2 separate regions of the Homo sapiens genome follow, and region 2 is linked to region 1. Evidence: fine-mapped expression QTL. A gene starts in region 1. The other region holds a variant in brackets. All regions are shown on one strand. Distances are between the middles of the regions.

Region 1 (5,383 bases):
ATTCAATCCAAAACATTTACTGACTGCCTACTAGTACCCAGGCACTGGGCTAGCTACTATGAATAGAAAAATGAGTAAGACATGGTTCCTGTCCCCCCGGAAAACCTACATTTTTCAGATGAGACTGTAATCTGAAGACTAACTGAAATATAATGTAGTAAATGTAAGAAAAGAGCTTATAAACTCCTTTGGGAATGTGGGATAGCAACATTTTGACAGCATTGAAAACTGAATGTGGTGTGAGGGGAGGATGGATGACTAAAATCAAGGGAAAGATTATTGGGGAGGATTTCAGAGCTGACTCTTGAATTGCAAACCCCTCATTCTCCCTCCACACACGTACACGCTCTTCCTATTTCCTTTTCATGATTCTTGAGGAAGGTACAGGAGTTAGGAAGAGGAACTGCAACAACACAGATAACAAGTCATCAATGGTACATTGGGATGGCAGTGGTGATGAAGATGACTAAAAGCCACTCCATACTCTAGAGCAGGGTTTGGCAAACCACACTCTGTGGGCCATATCTGGCTGGCTGGCTGTACAGCCAGTGAACTAAGAATGGTTTTTATATTTTCCAGCTGTCAAGGAAAAAAAAGAAATATTTCATAACATGAAAATTACATGAAAGTCAAATTTCAGTGTTCATAAATAAAGTTTTATTGAAACACAGCCATGCTCATTTAAGTATTGTCTATGGCTGTTTTGAACAAGCCAATTAGATGTGATAGACCATACGGTCCATAAAGTCTAAAATGTGTACTATCTGGCCCTTTGTTGAGAAAGTTTGCTATTCTCTGCTCTGGAGGCTTAAGTGAGACAGAGAGTATTGGATGATGAGGTTGGAGACGAAGGTGGGGTGAAAAGCCTCATATTAAGTACTTGGACTTGAACCTCAAGTCTAAGTAATGAGGAGGCCCATTTTTACATTTTACATTAAAGTGTTTTTATTAAAATGTTCATTTGGGTGGCAGTGCAAATAATACATTTAAGGGAATAAAAAAATGTAAGGATATAGGGGGATAGCTAGAACAGAGGATAATGTAAAACTTCAGGCAGAAAAACAAGACATTTCAGCATTCCCTAACCTCCTACATCGCCAAATTGTCCTCCATCCACTTATCACCATCTCACAGGATACACATTTCATTTACCTACTTGTTGTCTGACTCCTCCTACTCAAATGTAAGCTCCAAGATTGGAAGAGTTTTTCTTGGTTTTATTATTTCAGTGCTTAGAACAGTGCTAGACACATAGGAGGCATTCAGTAAATATTTGTTGAGTCAACTGAATTAGGGTTTTTCCCCAGCATTAATTAGCCTGTAAAATCTGAGAAGGCAGAAACTGTTCAGTTTTGCTCACTGCTATCTCCAGCTTCTAATGGACATACAGTAACCCTTCATAAATATTTGCTGAACGAGTGATTCAGTGAACAAATGAATAGAGAAGACCAACATCCGAAAAGTTATTTTATTTTCAAGCCTCATGTCTTTAACTGTTTTATATCAGCCTTTCTTAAGTTGACCGTCATTAATATTTGCTGAATGAATGAGTCAGTGATAAACAGAGAAGACCATCACCCTAAAATAACGACCCCTCCACTTTTAAGTCTTACGTCTTTAATGGGTTTCATATAATCTTTCTGCGCTCTTTTTACTGTCCAGTGTGGGAGCTGACACTAGTTTGCCTTAAGTCCTTAAAAATCGCACCCGGAGGCGCAGTGTCATAGGTAACCCAAGCTTTCCTAGTAAACATGATACAAAAGTAAACACAACCAACAGCATGGGGACCAGCAATTCAGAAACACCGAGCGGGCGGGCTGCCCAGACCTGGGCTTCCCCAGCAGGGCCCGCGGAGACCGGCCGTGAGCAGAGGCTGCAGGCCCACCCCGCAACCCGAGCAGCCGGGGCACCGCAGGGAAACAGCGGCCTAGCGAAGCCACCCGAGCTCCCTCCGCGCCCCCGGGCCAAAAGGCCGCAAAGGAACTCCGCCCGCCCGCCCGCTCACCCGCTCACCCGCTCACCCGCTCACCTTCAATTCCTGCGAGTCCATGGCTGCCCCGAGGCCGGGCCGCGGGGCTCTGGGGATTGTCTCGCCGCAGCCTAAAGGAAGACGCAGAATTCAGCTCCCCTAGCCTCCCGGAGCGCTCTAGCGCCCCGGGCCCCAGCGGGAGGGGCGGGGTCGCGCCGCGATTGGCTGTCGGAGGGAGAGGCGGGCCTGTGTGGCGGGGATCGTGCTGTAATGGAGCAGGGGCGGCGGGGACCCGGAGGTGAGGGCTGCGAGGGCCGCCCGGGAGGGTCCGGGCTGGGAAAAGGGCCTCCGCCGGAGAGTGCAGCTGGAAAAGGAGGTCACACTGGGAAACGGCTGTCTGAGGACAGTGGGTGGGCGGGCCGAGGAAATGGAATTCAGGAATAAAGGAAACGGAGTATGAAGAAGGGGAAGTCTGTTTCCTGTCACTGGTTGTAAAGGAAGACACCATTTTCTGCACGTTTGTCTGGAGGCGGATTCCCGCAGTGCGGCTCTCAGCAAGGCTCTGCCGGCGCGGGAAAAAGCGGTCAACTTTCACGTGGGCAAGTTGTTTTACGGCCACAAGGTGGCGCAGAAAAAAAAAATCACACGTTCTTAACAGAAATACGGTGCGCTTGGGCCCGTCTTTGCAGGCGTTGCTGCAATCTTTGTTAGAATGTGTGTTCAATTAGCCCTTTTTTACCAGCCCCGATAATAAGAGGGACAAATAAATTAAACTTCCAGAAAATTAGTGTCTTGTTTTCAATGATACTACTGATTTTAAACTGAGAATAAAATGAATCCCAATGCAAATTTTTATGTTTGCACCCCATTAGGCAACTCAATCAGTCACACATAGATTTCTTAAGTCCAGGAAATTAAATGGAAATATAATAGACTAAGATTTTCTATTTCTGCTTAAATAAATATTTAAAATAGTGCATAAGGTCTGAGATTTAAGTGATCTTTGCAGAATCTTTCACGTGGATTCCAAATTTTGATCCTAGTGTTAATTATCTTACTTTAGTTGACATGATACGTAGTTGCCTTTTCCAGATTTTAAGTTTCTTAAGGAGTTTATAAACATTGACTTTTTCCCCATGCCAATAGGTTATGTAAGGACAGTCTTGAGAAAAACGGTAGCTACCATCCTAGGCTTTAAGGTGAAGCAATATTTCTCACCGGTTTCTCTTTAAAGGAATTCACCACGTATTTTCACGAGCAACTTTTTTTTCTTTCCAATATTTATAGTCCAGCTAAATGTCTGTGGTGATGAACAACTGGTGATATCTCTTTGATTTTCAAAGCTGCGGATTAATCCGCACTTGGTATACAGCAAAGAATACCACAGGACCAGGGTGCTCAATGAAGTGTATAATCTTGAACTGTAAACCTTTGGTTATAAGAGAAAAGTTCATCTGTAAGGAAATATCTCAGGATCATGGTTAACAGAACAGATGATCAACCTACCTTTTGGAGATCTTGAAAGTCATATTAATTTAGCCTCGTATTCTCTTCACTGAATTCTGTTCTAAGGTTGAATTATTTAGCACAAAACACCAAGCCTGATGTTTCATAAATGTTTGTTGGATTAAAAGTACTCTGAGATTTGCTTTGACACTCACGGTGACTTGGTGTGCCCTGTGCCCTTACTAGATCTCATGTAAGAAATTTATTTTGGATCTCAGGCCAGGAAAAACTCTTGTCTTTCCTGAAAAATCGATGTGTTCCTTAGCAGTAACATTTTTATCGGCTCACTTTTACTAGCTACAAACTTTTGAGTCTGATATCCATGACCCTTCACCTCATCGTCTTTTCAAGCCTTATCTTCTACCTCCCCTTCAAGGAGCCTTTATTCCGCTCAGTGGGACAAATATTCCTTCTTCTGGTAATGCTTTCCCCTACTTTGTTTTGAGCTCTTTCTTCACCTGAGAAAATCTCCTTCTTCTGAGTTCATTTCAAATTTCATGAAGTCTTTAAGGATCACCATAACTGGATGGGTATAAAAATATCACAGTGTAGTGGCAAGAATACCCTCTTCTGCATCTGAGGTGGAGCTCCTATTACGCTAGCTACTTTTGTGACTTGGGGAAGTAATTTCCCTAAGCCTCATTTTCCTTATTTACTAAAGAAACTAAATGCCTTACAGACATATTAAAACTTCCTGACACATAATAGGCATTGTATAACCAATAGTTTCCATTAAACACGTAGTGCTCTATAGCAGTGGTCCCCAATCATTTTGGCACCAGGGACCAGTTTGGTGGAAGACAATTCACAGAAGATAAATTTTCCATGGACAGGGGTAGGGGAGATGGTTTCGGGTTGAAACTATTCCATCTCAGATCATCAGATTCTTATCTAAGGAGCATACAGCCTAGATCCTTCACATGCACAGTTTATAATGGGGTTTGCATTCGTATGAGAATCTAATGCCTCGCTGATCTGACAAGGAGGTGGAGCTTGGGGTAACGCTCCCTTTCCTGCCCCGCAGCTCACCTCCTGCTGTGTACCCCGTCCTGCTGTATACCCCATCCTGCTGTGTAGCACTGATTTGCAGTCCTCAGATTGGGGACCCCTGCTCTATAAGACTTATTACACTTGCATAGTCCTTGTATTACTAGTTATAGTGCATTTTTGTTTAATGTTCTCTACCAGATGATGAGCACTATAAAGCTAGATAATATAATGTAGCAGTTAACATCTTCGTCTCCAGAAATACGTCATTTTCGTTCAGACCTTAATGTGTCCGGAATTGGTGGGTTCTTGGTCTTGCTGACTTCAAGAATAAAGCCGCGGACCCTCGCGGTGAGTGTTACAGTTCATAAACGCACGCAGACCCAAAGAGTGAGCAGCAACAAGATTTATTGCAAACAGCAAAAGAACAAACCTTCCACAGAGTGGAAGAGGACCCCAGTAGAGTGCCCCTGCTAGCTCAGGTGGCCTGCATTTATTCCCTTATCCGGCCCCACCCACATCCTACTGATTGGTCTGCTTTACAGAGAGCTAATTGGGCTGTTTTACAGAGAGCTGATTGGTCCGTTTTGACAGGATGCTGATTGGTGTGTTTACAAACCTTGAGCTAGACACAGAGTGCTGACTGGTAAATTTACAATCCTTTAGCTAGACACAAAAGTTCTTCAAGTCCCCACCAGATTAGCTAGACACAGAGCACTGATTGGTACCTTTACAAACCTTGAGCAAGACACAGGGTGCTGACTGGTGCGTTTACAAACCTTCAGCTAGACACAGAGTGCTGACTGGTGCATTTACAAACCTTTAGCTAGACATAAAAGTTCTCCAAGTCCCCACCTGACTCAGGAGCCCAGCTGGCTTCACCTAGCGGTTCCCGGCCCGCCGAGACTGCAGCGGAGCTGC
Region 2 (5,383 bases), 94 kb before region 1:
CAGGGGGATGAACTAGAAAAAGGGAGAGGAAAGTATCATGTGTATATGAGTAGGAAGATGAAGGAAACAGGGAAGGGGGAGGTAGTTATAGTTAAGCAGATCGGATCTTAAGCAACTTTGCCAATGATATTCTTACCCCAAGTGTATGCCAGCAAGATATGGTTCTACTGCTGGTGACCTCATAGAAGCAGAGTCATCACTGGAGAAAGACATAGCTCTCATCCTGATGGGCATCTCCTGCCCCTGAGGCCTCAGTTAGCTGCACTTGCCTTCTGCATCTCCTGGGGATTTCACTCCATCAGTTAGCATCTTGTTTACTGCCTTCCCTAAAGAAGTGATATGTATTAATATTAGTCTGTTATAACATCGCTATAAAGATACCAAAGACTGGGTAATTTATAGTGAAAAGAGGTTTAATTCACTGAAAGTTCTACATGGCCAGGGGGCCTTCAAAATTTACAATAATGGTGGAAGGCAAAGGGTAAGCAAGCTACCTCCTTCACAAGGCAGCAGGAGAGACAGCAAGAAAGCAGGGGAAATGCCAGACACTTATCAAACAACCAGATATTGTGAGAACTCCCTCACTATCACAAGAACAGCCTGGGAGAAACCACCCCATGATTCAATCACCTCCCAACAGGTCCCTCCCTTGATATGTGGGGATTATAATTTGAGATGAGATTTGGGTGGGGACACAGAGCCAAACCATATCATGATGCCTATCCATTTCTTTGAATTTTGTTTGATTCCTGACTGACTTATTCTTACCTCACAATGCCCCAGGATATATGTGAGCCCAAGAAAATGGGATTAAAGTCAGAGAGACTTAGTAGCGTGGCCTAATGAAAAATCCTTGGGGCTAACTGGAGCCAAACTGATTTGATACCTTCCCAGCATCTCTCCATCTTTTACATGAGCTGGGACCATGGTTAATGGCTCTTTTTATATAATAATTTAAAAATGTGTAAATATAAGGGCCACCTAGCACATAAAGAAGGAATATAAAGGTCAAGGGTCTTGTTGTTTATCAACATGGTCTTTGAGAATTGCTTATACTCAATTTTGATGAGCCTGGCTCTTTATGGCTCCTTCTTCCGTGATTTGGAAAAGTGCAAGCCTGGGCAGCTGTCAACTCATTGATACTCTCAGCAGCACAGTTCCGACTGAACTCTTAGTTTAGTCATGGTGATATCTAGTGGTTGTACCACTAGGGTGGTACAGCCCTTGGTACTGTCCTGGTTTGGGTTGCTTGGACATTTGGAGAAATAAAACAGATGGGAGAATTATGATTTTGAACAAATAATTTACCATGTTGCAAATTTCTTTATCAGTGAAAGTCCAGTAATTTTCTACATTGTTTAACTAAAAGTTGTGGGTTTTTAAATGTAGGTGTTCAACTAAGCTAGCACTTGAGTGAATTAAAAAAAAAATTGGACTAAATACTGTGGAGGGAGAAGTGCAAAAGGATCAGATAACATGTTGTAGTGGAGCCTTCAGGCTGTCTGCCCAGCAACCTTTTTATCCATAGATGTGGGCCTGGGTAACCTGTGTCACCTGGTGGCCTCCTTCCTGGCCATATTGGTGGTGGGAGTTGGGGACTAAGAAACTACACATCATTCTCTGCATGTGGCCAAACTTACAACATGGGAGTAGTGAAACGTCTGTGAGAAGTGAGAACTAGTGTATTAGCCCATTTTCATGCTGCTAATAAAGATACCCAAGATTGGATAATTTATAAAGAAAAAGAGGTTTCATGGACTCACAGTTCCACATGGCTGGGGAGGCCTCAAAATCATGGTGGAAGCTAAGGAGGAGCAAGTCATGTCTTACATGGATGGCAGCAGGCAAACAGAGCTTGCACAGGGAAACTCCCCCTTATAAAACCATCAGATCTTGTAAGAGGTATTCACTATCATGAGAACAGCATGGAAAACACCTGCCCCCATGATTCAATTACCTCCCATGGGGTCCCTCCCACAACACGTGGGAATTCAAGATGATATTTGGGTGGGGACACAGCCAAACCATATCACTCTGCCCCTTGCCCCTCCTAAATCTCATGTCCTTACATGTCAAAACCAATCATGCCTTCCCAACAGTCCCCCAAAGTCTTAACTCATTTCAGCACTAACTCTTTTAAAAGTCTACAGTCCAAAGTCTCACCTGAGACAAGGCAAGTCCCTTCTGCCTATGAGCCTGTAAAATTGAGAGCAAGTTACTTGCTTGCTAGATACAATGGAGATACAGGCATTGGGTAAATACAGCCATTCCAAATGGGAGAAATTGGGTAAAACGAAGGAGCTACAGGCCCCATGCAAGTCCAAAATCCAGCAGGGCAGTTAAATCTTAAAGCTCCAAAATAATCTGCTTTGACTCCTTATCTCACATCCAGGTTATGCTGATGCAAGAAATGGGTTCCCATGGTCTTGGGCAGCTCTGCCAGTGTGGCTTTGCAGGGTACAGCCTCCTTTCTGGCTGCTTTCATGGGCTGGCAACGAGTGCCTGTGACTTTTTCAGGTGCACAGTGCAAGCTGTCAGTGGATCTTCCATTCTGGGGTCTGGAAGATAGAGACCCTTTTCTCACAGCTCCACTAG[G/C]CAGCACCCTAGTGGGGACTCTGTGTGGGGGCTTCTACCTCACATTTGCCTTCCACACTACCCTAGCAGAGGTTCTCCGTGAGGTTTGTCCCTGAAGCAAAACTTCTTCCTGGACATCCAGGCATTTCCATACATCCTCTGAAATCTAGGTGGAGGTTCCCAAATCCCAATTCTTGACTTCTGTGCCCTCACAGGCTCAACACCACGTGAAAGCTGCCAAGGCTTGGAGCTTGCACCCTCTGAAGCCACAACCTGAGCTCTAGCTTGGCCCCTTGTAGTCATGGCTGGAGTGGCTGGGACACAGGGCGCTAAGTCCTTAGACTGCACACAGCAGAGGGACACTGGGCCCAGCCAATGAAACCATTTTTCCCTCCTAGGCTTCCAGGCCTGTGATGGGAGGGGCTACCTTGAAGACTACTGACATTCGCTGGAGACATTTTCCCCATTGTCTTGGCAATGATTCACATTCAGCTCCTCGTTACTTATGCAAACTTCTGCAGCCAGCTTAAATTTCTCCTCAGAAAATGGAATTTTCTTCCCTATCACCTTGTCAGGCTGCAAATTTCTGAACTTTTATGCTCTGATTTCTTTATAAAACTGAATGCCTTTAACAGCACCCAAGTCACCTCTTGAATGCTTTGCTGCTTAGAAATTTCTTCCACCAGATTCCCTAAATCATCTCTCTCAAGTTCAAAGTTCCACAAATCTCTAGGGTGGGGCAAAATGCTGCCAGCCACTTTGCTAAAACATAACAAGAGTCACCTTTGCTACAGTTCCCAACAAGTTCCTCATCTCCATTTGAGACCACCTTAGCCTGGACTTTATTGTCCATATTGCTATCTGCATTTTGGGCAAAGCCATTCAACAAGTCTCTAGGGCATTCCAAACTTTCCCACATTGTTCTGGCTTCTTTTGAGCCCTCCAAACTGTTCCAACCTCTGTCTGTTACCCAGTTCCAAAGTTGCTTCCCTGTTTTCGGGTATCTTTTCAGCAGCATCCCACTCTATTGGTTCCAATTTACTGTATTAGTCTGTATTCCTGCTGCTGCTAAAGACATACCTGAGACTGGGAAGAAAAAGAGGTGATATGGTTTGGGTATGTCCCCACCCAAATCTCATCTTGAATTCCCACGTGTTGTAGGAGGAACTCAGTGGGAGGTAATTGAATCATGGGGGCATGTGCTATTTTTCTGATAGCAAATAAGTCTCATAATATCTGAGTGCTGTTCTTGTGATAGCAAATAAGTATCATAATATCTGATGGTATTATAAGGAGGAATTTCCTGCACAAGCTCTCTCTTTTTGTCTGCTGTCATCCATGTAGGATTTGACTTGCTCCTCCTTGGCTTCCACCATGATTGTGAGGCCTCCCCAGGCAAGTAGAACTGTAAGTCCCACTAAACTTCTTTTTTTTCTGTAAATTGTCCAGTCTCAGGTATATGTCTTTTATCATCAGCATGAAAATAGACTAATACAAGAGGTTTAACAAACTCATAGTTCCACATGGCTGGGGAGGCCTCATAATCATGGTGGAAGCAAAAGCTACTACTTACATGGCAGTGGCAAGAGAGAATGAGAGCCAATAAGTTTCACAAGATCTACTGGAGAAGACCAGGTCTGCCCGATATGAGGGCTTTCCCTCTGCCTGGCACAGTGCCTGGCATAGAATAGGTCTTCAGTGAATATCTGGATGGATAGTTGAGTGAACAGCAACATGCAGAAAGTATCAGAGGAAAGGCATAGAGTCCTGCCCACATTCCAGTCCCTGGTTCCAGTTCCTTCCCACCTTTCAGCTCCAGTGCCAACTTGAAGAGTTACATATAACTCAGGCCATCCTAAGTTGGTTTCTGCTACTTGCAAATTGTAGAGCAATCACTGATAATAATGGTCTCTAGCTTGGGGGAACTTGGAGTATACTTTTAGACAACCTGAAAAAAAATTATGTATTTGTGTAACTGATTCCTTCCTCTTTACATGTGTGTATTTATATATGAATGTGTGTGTAGGTACATGTATATAATTATATGATATTATTTTTGGATATATACATATGTATATAAAAATGCATATATAAAAATGAATTGGGCAATTTAATCAATGTTCCTGAGCTCCCTTTTTACCTCTAAAATGAAAGGATGAGATTCAATGATCTAAAATTTTAAAAGTACACGCTTTCCAGGAATTATGTAATTGCTTTGTTAGAAAGTCACCAGAAGGTATACTGTTGCTAGAAAAGAATGCCCAGGGAAGGCACTTTGGGAATTCACGTACATGCTATGTTTTGTCATTGCTGGAAATAGTTTGGCAGCGCCTCCAGGAAGTACATTCACAGGTATTCACATATTCTCCATGGAGGCAGATGTCCAGTCTAATGACTGTGATGACTGAGGGTGCTGGTAATGACAGTTCAGACAGAAAAGCAAAATTTAGTTAAGAAACAGCAGTAAGAGTTTTCACTGTGAACTGGCCATGAAGACAGACCCACAAGGAGTATCATTCACTGTCACTATGGATAGAACATTGGTGAGGATGACATACCAAACCTTTCTGAAGCATCAGAAAGGTAGATAACCTGCAGTTGCAGTCCCCAAACTTGGCTGCCCTCTTTTTGGCTGGGACCTCAGTACTCTTCTCACATCAAGCATGGGCATGTACCAGGTGTTCAATTAGTACTGAGTGGTCAGTTAAGCCAAACTGATTATAACAGTCATCAGTGTTTGAATCAGGTGCTTTATGTATATTTTCTTACTTCACACAGTTAACAATACTCTTTTTAGTTTCTTTGTAAA

Which allele goes with the higher level. Positions count from the first base shown, and alleles are read on the strand shown. Sizes are in standard deviations (SD) of each study's normalised expression.
With allele G in place of C in region 2, the expression in thyroid of the gene that starts at base 2,121 in region 1 is higher (small effect, 0.22 SD a copy in GTEx).

What was found. PIP is the estimated chance that this variant, and not a neighbour inherited with it, causes the effect.
Region 2: its variant is fine-mapped to the expression of TTC21B in thyroid (GTEx, PIP 0.92).

Annotation. Positions count from the first base shown.
Region 1 is chr2:165,951,656-165,957,038 of GRCh38, forward strand. It overlaps TTC21B (tetratricopeptide repeat domain 21B), which reads right to left and starts at 2,121. Exons shown (of 29, transcript NM_024753.5): 1 at 2,030-2,121. The coding sequence starts at 2,050. RefSeq lists a silencer at 1,972-2,371 and an enhancer at 2,136-2,885.
Region 2 is chr2:165,858,079-165,863,461 of GRCh38, forward strand. LOC100506124 (a long non-coding RNA gene) reads right to left here. Exons shown (of 4, transcript NR_045375.2): 2 at 4,866-4,987; 3 at 137-326. Among named protein-coding and RNA genes, the nearest start is that of GALNT3, 67 kb to the left of the region's middle. The variant G/C (reference allele first, on the strand shown) is at 2,596.